Regions from separate parts of the Homo sapiens genome. Here region 1 is linked to region 2. The links come from fine-mapping of genetic effects on gene expression. A gene starts in region 2. The other region holds a variant in brackets. All regions are shown on one strand. Distances are between the middles of the regions. Region 1 overlaps PCGF5 (polycomb group ring finger 5). Region 2 holds the start of PCGF5 (polycomb group ring finger 5).

The links. PIP is the estimated chance that this variant, and not a neighbour inherited with it, causes the effect. A credible set is the group of variants that fine-mapping cannot tell apart.
Region 1: its variant is the best candidate, but not a certain one, in a credible set for the expression of PCGF5 in whole blood (INTERVAL, PIP 0.67).

What each region holds. Positions count from the first base shown.
Region 1 is chr10:91,255,956-91,260,955 of GRCh38, forward strand. The region is part of intron 6 of PCGF5 (polycomb group ring finger 5); the gene reads left to right. Among named protein-coding and RNA genes, the nearest start is that of PCGF5, 38 kb to the left of the region's middle. The variant A/C (reference allele first, on the strand shown) is at 2,333.
Region 2 is chr10:91,217,677-91,223,121 of GRCh38, forward strand. It overlaps PCGF5 (polycomb group ring finger 5), which reads left to right and starts at 2,987. Exons shown (of 10, transcript NM_032373.5): 1 at 2,987-3,160; 2 at 5,013-5,307. The coding sequence starts at 5,196. RefSeq lists an enhancer at 2,527-2,596 and silencers at 2,787-3,096, 3,167-3,626, 3,316-3,610.

The sequences.
Region 1 (5,000 bases), 38 kb after region 2:
TGTAAGTAGTTGTTAATACTATATTATTTTTATTATTGTTATTTTTATTGTTTTTAAAAATATTTTTGATCTGTGATTGCTTGAATTCACAAATGCAGGACTGCAGTTACAGAGAGCTGATTGTTTGACCCATACACAGGAAAAGAAGCAGTCAATAGAAACTGTCGCTGAGGAAGCCCAGACATTGTACTTATTAGGCATAGATTTGAAATTATCTATTTAAATATGCACAAAGAACTAAAACCATGGTCTGGGCACTATATGAAAATACAAGAATGATCTCACCAAATACAGAATATTAAATGTCTTTTAATATTCTGGAGTTGAAAAGTATAGCAACAGAAATGAAAATTTTACTGGTGAGGCTCAACAGCAGACTTGAGCCAAAGAAAAAGAACCTGTAAAATTGAAGTTAAATGAATTGAGATTATTCAGTCTGAGAAACAGAAAAATAGAATGAAGAAAAATGAACAGGTCCTCAGAGAGCTGTAGACACCATCAAGCTTACCAGCATACACATAATGGAAGTTCCAGAAGGAGAGGAAATGGAGAAAAAAGGACAGAAAGTATATTTGAAGAAATAATGGCCCCTAAAAACCAACCAAATTTGATGAAAAATATTAAACATTTGAGAAGCTTAACAATCTTCAGGTATGATAAATTCAAAGAAATTCATACCTAGGCACATCATAATCAAACTATTCAAAGACAAAGAGAGAATCTTGAAAGCAACAATATAAAAGTGACTCATGCACAAAGGACCCCCAGTAGGGTTAGTAGCTGATTTCTCACCAAAAGCTGTGGAGGATAGAAGGCAATAGGATAATATATGCAGAGTGCTCAAAGAAAGAAAACTGTCAACTAGTTAAGTCTATATTCATCAAAAATCTATAGCCTTCCAAAAGGAAGGAGAAATTAAGATATTCCCATGACCTTGGATTTGGCAGTGGATTCTTAGAAATGACACCAAAAGCACAAGCAACAAAAGAAAAGAAATAGATAAATTGTAAATGTAAAACTTCATTAAAATGTAAAACTCTTGTGTATCAAAGGACACTTAAAGTGAAAAAAGTTACAGAACGGGAAAAAATATTTGCAAATCATGTCTGATAAGCCTTTAATGTACAGGTATATGAAGAACTCTTATAAATCAACAATAAAAAGATGGCCCAATTTGGAAAAAGGCAAAAGGCTTGAATAAACATTCCTCTAAAGAAGTTATAAAAATGACCAATAAGCACAGGAAAAGTTGCTAAATATCACTAGTCACTGGGGCTCTGCAAATCAAAACCACAATGAGATATCATTTTATACCTACTAGGATGGCCAGAAATTTTTTTTAAGGAAAATAATAAATGTTAGAGAATGTGGACAAATTGAAACCTTATACGTTGCTAGTGGGAAGGTGAAAGTGCAGCTACTGTGGAAAACACTTTAGCAGTTCCTCAAAGAGTTGACGTGGTAATTCCACTTCTAAGTATGTGATCATATCCAGTAGTCCCCCCCTTATCTGTGGAGCATATGTTCCAAGACCCCCAGGGGATGTTGCAACCACAGATAGTACCAAATAATCCTGTATATACTGGTTTTTTTAATTTGATAACTGAGATAGCTAAGTCACTAATGGACAGGTGGCCTATACAGCATGAATATGCTGGACAAAGGGAGGATTCACAACCTGGGCAGGACGGAGTAGGATGGTGCAAGATTTTAACATGCTATGCAGAATTGTATGCAGCTTAAAACTTATGAATTGTTTATTTCTAGAATTTTCCATTTTGTATTTTTGGACAGTGATATATTGACTGGGTAACTGAAATCAAGGAAAGTGAAACTGCAGATAAGGAGGGACTACTGTATAAAAGAATTGAAAACATGTTCACACAAAATCTTGTATATGTATATTCATAATAGCATTATTTGTAATAGCCAGAAAGTGAAAACAACCCAAATGTCTATCAGCTGATGAATGGAAAAGCAGAATGAAAGGAAATGTGATACTATTCAGTCATAAACTGCAATGAAGTACTGATACATGCTACAAAATAGATGAATCTTGAAAACTTTATGCTAAGTGCAAGAAGCCAGACACAAAAGGTCACATATTATGTGATTCCATTTATACGAAATATCCAGACAAGGATAAAGACAAAGTAGATTAGGGTTGTCAGGGGATGGGAGGAGGGAAGGTTGCGGAGTGACTGTGAATAGATTTGGGTTACTTTTGAGGATGATGAAAATGTTTTGGAATTAGATCATAGTAATGGTTGTACAACTTTGCGAATAGTATAAAAACTATAATTAATCTGTGAAAGATTGTAAGTAGTGATAC[A/C]AACATCATTTCTGGAGATTCTTCCTAATTTCTTGACAGATGAAAAATACACAAATTAAGAGTCTTCCAGTACAGGTTGAGTATCCCTTATCCAAAATGGTTGGGACCAGAAGTTTTTTGGGTTTTGGAATATTGGCATTGTATATACTTACAGTTGAACCTCCCAAATCTGAAATGAATGAGTGTCATGTCAGCCCTCAGTTTCAGATTTTGGGACATTTCAGATTTCAGACTGGGGATGATCAACCTACACCCTTATATTCTTCTCTGACTTAACTGGGGCTTGTAAAAATGTGCTAATGATTCTTTGTAAGCTGTTTGGGGCAAGAAGAAAATTGACAGGAAACCTTGGGATAGTTGAGAAGGTGAACAGATAACAGAGAAGATAGACGTGTACATTTATCCCTTTGTTTTCATGCTGTCTAGAATATCCGTCTTCACATTTGAAATGGGTAGAATATGTGTTGATTTAGATGTAACTTTTAACTTCTGTTTTCTTTTAATGGATATTTTATCATCTGTATTGTGACCAGGTTGTTATTTGTTAATTTATTTCTGTTGGTCTTTGCCAGGAAATATGTTTTGCTAGGAAAACATTTGCTAGGAAATAAACATTGACTGAACAGTTGTGACTTAGTGATGCTGACCTCATTTCCTATACATACAAATAGGAGTAATATCTTTAAAAGATTCTATTGTTGTTTTGTGTGTTTTAGTATTCTGATAACTTTTGAGGTTGTGGAATGTAATTTTGTTTCACATATTGGTTCGTGTTTATTATGTCTACAACCTCATTTTACTTCATTTTCAGCTTGGGTGTCCCTTCTGGATTGGTTCTTATATTTTAGTGATAGTCAAGCTTAAAGAGTGAATTAGTACTGCTCTGCACATTTTACAAATGAGACACATCAGGCACAGAGAAGTTTGTTCTTCCAGTAAAGTACTGGCACAGCCTATCAGACACTATTCTCCCCAACACAAGGTCCACACTATGCAACTTCTAATTTCTGGGGCATGCTGTGGCCTAACCAGCCTCTCTCTGTTGAACCCTATGGCTCCTCAGGGTCCCATTTGACATCACTGCTCTTTCTGAAATTATTTAAAAGCTGTGATACCATGTTTTAGAAAATGTCCCTCATGTTTCAGAAGTTATACTTTATAATCTTCACAGAATTGGAAAAAACTAAAGTTCATATGGAACCAAAAAAGAGCCCGCATTGCCAAGTCAATCCTAAGCCAAAAGAACAAAGCTGGAGGCATCACGCTACCTGACTTCAAAGTATTCTACAAGGCTACAGTAACCAAAACAGCATGGTACTGGTACCAAAACAGGGATATAGACCAATGGAACAGAACAGAGCCCTCAGAAATAATGCCGCATATCTACAACTATCTGATCTTTGACAAACCTGACAAAAACAAGAAATGGGGAAAGGATTTCCTATTTAATAAATGGTGCTGGGAAAACTGGCTAGCCATATGTAGAAAGCTGAAACTGGATCCCTTCCTTACACCTTATACAAAAATTAAGATGGATTAAAGACTTACATGTTAGACCTAAAACCATAAAAACCCTAGAAGAAAACCTAGGCAATACCATTCAGGACATAGGCATGGGCAAGGACTTCATGTCTAAAACACCAAAAGCAATGGTAACAAAAGCCAAAATTGACAAATGGGATCTAATTAAACTAAAGAGCTTCTGCACAGCAAAAGAAACTACCATCAGAGTGAACAGGCAACCTACAGAATGGGAGAAAATTTTTGCAACCTACTCATCTGACAAAGGGCTAATATCCAGAATCTGCAATGAACTCCAACAAATTTACAAGAAAAAACAACCCCATCAAAAAGTGGGCAAAGGGTATGAACAGACACTTCTCAAAAGAAGACATATATGCAGCCAACAGACATGTGAAAAAATGCTCATCGTCACTGGCCATCAGAGAAATGCAAATCAAACCACAATGAGATACCATCTCACACCAGTTAGAATGGCCATCATTAAAAAGTCAGGAAACAACAGGTGCTGGAGAGGATGTGAAGAAATAGGAACACTTTTACACCGTTGGTGGGACTGTAAACTAGTTCAACCATTGTGGAAGTCGATGTGGCGATTCTTCAGGGATCTAGAACTAGAAATACCATTTGACCCAGCCATCCCATTACTGGGTATATACCCAAAGGATTATAAATCATGCTGCTATAAAGACACATGCACACATATGTTTATTGTGGCACTATTCACAATAGCAAAGACTTGGAACCAACCCAAATGTCCAACAACGATAAACTGGATTAAGAAAATGTGGCACATATACACCATGGAATACTATGCAGCCATAAAAAATGATGTGTTCGTGTCCTTTGTAGGGACATGGATGAAGCTGGAAACCATCATTCTCAGCAAACTATCACAAGGACAAAAAACCAAACACCGCATGTTCTCACTCATAGGTGGGAATTGAACAATGAGAACACATGGACACAGGAAGGGGAACATCACACTCTGGGGACTGTTGTGGGGTGGGGGAGGGGGGAGGGATAGCAGTAGGAGATATACCTAATGCTAAATGACCAGTTAATGGGTGCAGCACACCAACATGGCACATGTATACATATGTAACAAACCTGCACGTTGTGCACATGTACCCTAAAACTTAAAGCA
Region 2 (5,445 bases):
ACCAGTGGCCACTTCACTCCTAAGTGCCATCTAGACAGTTATTTCCCTCCCTCTCCTCATCCATTCTTCCCTTTCTTTCTTCCTTGTTTAACAACAACAAAAAAAGTTAATCTGTGTGTTTTTTCTTTAGACATAGTCTCGCTCTTGTGCCCCAGACTAGAGTGCAATGGCGCGATCTTGGCTCACTGCAACCTCCACCTCCCAAGTTCAAGTGATTCTCCTGCCTCAGCCTCCCTAGTAGCTGGGATTACAGGCACCTGCCACCAAGCCTGGCTAATTTTGGTATTTTTAGTAGAGACAGGATTTCACCATGTTGGCCAGGCTGGTCTTGAACTCCTGACCTCAGTTGATCTGCCCGCCTTGGCCTCCCAAAGTGCTGGGATTACAGGCGTGAGCCACCGTGCGCAGCCCTAATCTGTTTCTTACCAGACCTCCCTTAAGTTCTGGGACTTGAGAAGTACTCTCAAGAGGTATTAAAGAAAACTGAAGCTGACACCTTTGTTTTTGTCTTGGCTCTACCAGAATCAGCTCTGTAATTATGAATTCACCACGTCTCAGGATCTTAGTTTCTACATCTATAAAATGAGAAAGCTGAAGTACATTATTGATAAGGGGACTCCCAGCTATGATTCCTTTATCCTGCCTTTTTTTTTCCCCTGGTCCTATATCCAGTTGCTTCCAGGCCTTTGTTTACTTGAGGGTCCCACTGGTACTTGAGATTTGTTATCAGAGCTACCCCCTCATGTTGTAGCTTCCGTCATTTGTCCTCTGCCCCCACTGGCAGTACCAAGGGACTAGACTAGGATAAGTAACTGGTAAGGAGCCCCAGGGGAGAAGGAGAGGCAGCACAGCAGCTGAAAGTCCCATGTTTTAATACTTACAATCTGCATACACATCACACAGGAAAGTTGCCATTTCACAACACTCCCTCTTACCATTACTTTTGTTATTATTCTTATTTTATTATTATTATTGAGACAGAGCCTTGCTCTGTCTCCCAGGCTAGAATGCAGTGGTGCGATCTCGGCTCACTGCAACTTCCACCTCCTAGGTTCAAGCGATTCTCCTGCCTCTGCCTCCTGAGTAGCTGGGACTACAGGCGCATGTCACCATGCCCGGCTGATTTTTGTTTTAGTAGAGATGGGGTTTCGCCATATTGGCCAGGCTGGTCTCAAACTCCTGACCTCATGATCCGCCCACCTCGGCCTCCAGAAGTGCTAGGATTACAGGCATGAGCCACCGTGCCAGGCCTATTATTATTTTTTTAACCAGACAAATGTTTGAGTTTTTAAACTTGTTTTTATTTTGTGTATGTGTGCATTTTTTTAAATTGGGGTGGGAGAGATGGAATGGTTGCTGAAGAAGGCAGAGGCGAAACCACAGAACACTTAACTGCAAACTATTGCTGCCTCTCCAGACACAAAGCACAGATTGCCTTATAAAAGTTGTAGTTCTCCCTCATCCCAAGTCCATTCTGGCAACCCCACCTCCACATTCATCCTCAGGTACTGCTGTATCACATGTTTGTGACCCCTTCCTTCATTGCTAACATATGTCATCCTAAAACCCGCCTTCAAGCTCGTTTCCTTCAGGAATACTGATTAACCGCACTTGTGATAGGTCACCAATCACATTTAAGCCCCCTGGACTCCACTGTTATTCTTTTAAAACATATTTAAAATAGTTTCAGACACAAAATAGGAACATACCAAGTCTTTTTTATATATTGTGGTATATATACAGTAATATCCTCCAATGCATATTTTAAACACACTAGAAGTAGTGTGATTTTTCACATACTGTTCTGTTTAGTCTCTGAAATGAAAGATATGAAGCATAAAGAGTAATCCTACTGCCATGAAGTCATTTGACCTCACTTGTTTTCTCTTACTCATTGTGATTGCTGCGACTTATGAAGTTGATCCCAGCTTGGACATTGGCATGTATGATTTTGGAAAATGGTTCTTTAAAGGACTATACGAATGTGGTCATTTAAAGCTGTTTCAGAAAATGTATTGCTCCTGCTGTGATATTAGAAATGGCAATTTTTAAACATGTCAAAGTTTGATTATAAAATGGATAGTTTAAAAAGCTGCCTTGGTCTACTGCTTGATGCATTTTAAATTTGAAATGGATCTTTGAACACTTGTATGGCTGCTGGACTAGCGGTTGTTAAGTTTGTTGGTTTGCCACTTAGAGTCATCTATCACTTTAGTAAGAAGTTAACGCCTATCAGTTGGAGAAAAAGCAAATATTTTGCATTGACAGTCTCCCCTACCCTCTATTATTGTCATTTTCTTAAGCCATCACTGCTCTGGCTTCTAGAATACACATTTTTGAATGAAGGTTTTTGCAGTGAATGGTCTCTTGTAGATCTCAAAGTCCACTAGAAAGAGTACTGGGTTTTTGTTTGTTTTGAACGTTGCAAACAGTAATGCTTCTTTACCACTCACCCTCCCCCCACCCTCAACCTCCACAACGTTCCCGTTTGCTTATAGTTGTCAACGACCATGATCTCTGGACCCACACTACAGTAACAAGTTTGTCAGTCATTTTCAGATAAGGTGCAAATCAAGGGATGGCTTTGTCCCCACTTCGGCGCAGGTGGGACAGACTTGGGGAAGACGCAGCTGAAGAGACAAATTCTCAGGGTGCGTCAGTCTCATCACTGACCGTTGCTTTTAAACCCTCCAGGGAAAATATGCCAGTCATTGTTATGATGTAAACAACCGAAGGGGTGGACGGTGAGGATAAGAAGAACCGAGATAATATTTGGCCAGAGCTACGTGTAGCACAGGGAGCCAGGGCGGCAGCTGCACCTGCGAGCAGCGCAGGCGGCAGGCGCGGCCTCCGGGCGTGGTGGTGGGCGTGGCCGGGCGGCGGGGGCGTGGCCGGGCGGCGGGGCGGGCGGTGCCGCCGGTTGGAAGTGGGTGGAGTTGCCCTTGGAGGCGGCACCGGACCTGGGCCCCGAGGCCCGCCGCGCCCTGTCGGGCCTGAGCCGAGTGGCCCCACAGAGCCGGCGCGCTCCCGCCTGCAGGGGGAGAGCAGACGGGGCGCGGGGACCGGCCAGGCCGCGGCGGGTGCTGTTTCTGTTTCACTTTCCTTCACTCTGAGGCCGGCGCGCTGGCGGGCGAGGAGCGGCGGCGGTGGCGGCCGCTGGGTAGGTACCGGGCGGGCTGGGGAGCTGCAGGGACGCCAGACTCCTCACCCAAGTTTGCGCCTCAGGCGAGAGCGACACCTCCAGACACCTGCCCTGGCCGGCCCAGCCTGGAGCCGGGAGGGCCCTTCGGGTGCAGGGGGCTACCGACCCGGGCGGGGGCTTCGGAGCTGTGCCTACCTCGGCGGGGAGAGCGGCCGGCTGCGGACGCCGGCCCCGGGAAAGGCTGCTCGCTCTCCCCGGCCTGAGCAGCGCGCCCGCGGGGCCTGGGCCCGCGCACCTGCCGGGCGGGCGCGGCTGTGCTGGGACCCCACAGGGCTGTACCGCTGGGTCCTGCCGGAGAACGCAGAAAAGTTCCCCCTTGCCCCCGCCCCGTCATTGCAAGTTCTTGCTTCCCTTAACTGTCTTGGTCACAGGGCTCTGTGCCTTAGGATCTTAGTACCACCCCAGGTCGGGACCGTGCATTTCCTCTTCCAGAGGACTTTCTCTTACTTTGGAGTTTCATGGCAAACCTGTGGGAAAGGCAAGGCAGTTAATCCCAACTTATAGAGGAGGAAGCCGAGACCCAGGCTCAGATATGAAACGGTTTGCTGAAGGTCATACAGGGGTAAGGGCCAGAACCCTGATTCCCTGTCTTTTAATTATGCTTGCTTTCTGTTACACGCACGAATACGGTTTCCCAAGAGGATAGGATGATTACACGTAGAGCCTATTCCCTGCACATTCGCAGTGGGTATGTGTTGATGGAATGCCTTTTACCTTTCCGGTTGCTTTATATTTACCAATGAGTTAACAGCTAAGATGGGGGAAAGTTCCTGTTTATAGAATGCACTTAGGAAAATCAACACCTTTCATGTTGTGTTTTCTGAGAGGATACATATTTTACAGTTAAAAAAAAAAAAAAACCTGAGACAGGAAAGTAGCATTATCCAGGTTATATATCTACTAAATATGACCAGTTTCTATTGAAGAGTTTTTGGTCTAACAAAGAAGGTAAAGAATGAACGTAACTATAAATCAAAATAAAAGGCAAATGTAATAGGAAAGAAGTAAGCATTAAAAACTAGGGAAAGATTGCACTGAGAATAGCATTGGAGAAGGGCTTGAAGGATAGGTGGCATGCAGACAGAGGAGAGAAAGGGCGTGTTGGATAGAGTGCTTAGAACCTGCAGAGGAGACGGTGGGAGAGGAGTGATCCCTTCAGGTTGAAGAAAGTTGTTGAAGGGTATATTAAGGTTAACCTGTAGAAGGTCTTATGTGACAGAATGGGAAACATTTTTCTGTTTGTAAAGAGAAGACACTGACATTCGTTGATAAGAAGACCCAACCAAGTGTCACAAAATAAAATGTGCCTCGTAGCAGAATATAAGATGGACTGCAGGTGGAGAGGTGATATACAAGTAGAGCAGCCGGGCATGGAATAGCAGAGGATATCAACTTGGTTTGACTCGTAACTGGATGAAGGGTTAAAAATGGAAATGGGGAACATTTTGATAGGGAGGATAATTACTTAAGTTTTTAATCTTTTAACTTGTATTGGCAGGGACTCCTAATAGAGCAGTCAAGCAGATAGTTAAAATGCATTAGTGAAGAGGTAAAGATATCAAACTGTAGTTAATAGCTTTGGGTGTCATTAGTATAGAGGTGGTAGTTGAGGTTCCAGGACTGGATGAATTTGTCATTATTCTGAATTATAGCAGATTTGCAAGTTAATGATACAATGAAGGATATGTTCTATTCACCTATTCACCCAATTGGGAACATGTAACACTTGCTGTTAATAGAATGACATTAATACATTATGAGGAATTTGACGCTTTTTTCTCTCATCTTTTTGAAATGATTTTGGAAACAGACATGGGAAAGCGGAACCACCAAAAGGAGTGATGATCAACGATCTCATGATAAATCTGGATGCTAGTTCTCATGCCTCAGGACATCCTACTGGGAACGACACACCAGCTCCTGGGATCAGACTTTCATCTACTTAGGACCCCTCTTTGCCCAGACTACTAAAGCCAGTCTTCACTAGCCACGAATGGCTACCCAAAGGAAACACTTGGTGAAAGATTTTAATCCTTACATTACCTGCTATATCTGTAAAGGGTATCTGATCAAGCCAACAACAGTGACGGAATGCCTCCATACATGTAAGTATTCTTTTAGGTTATTATACCTATCAAAGTTTATATGTACATTTTGTTCTTTTAAAATTGCCATGTTTTGTTTTTATCTATGTTGTAACTTTTAAGAAATGAGTATTCTAATAATTATTTTAACTTTGAATT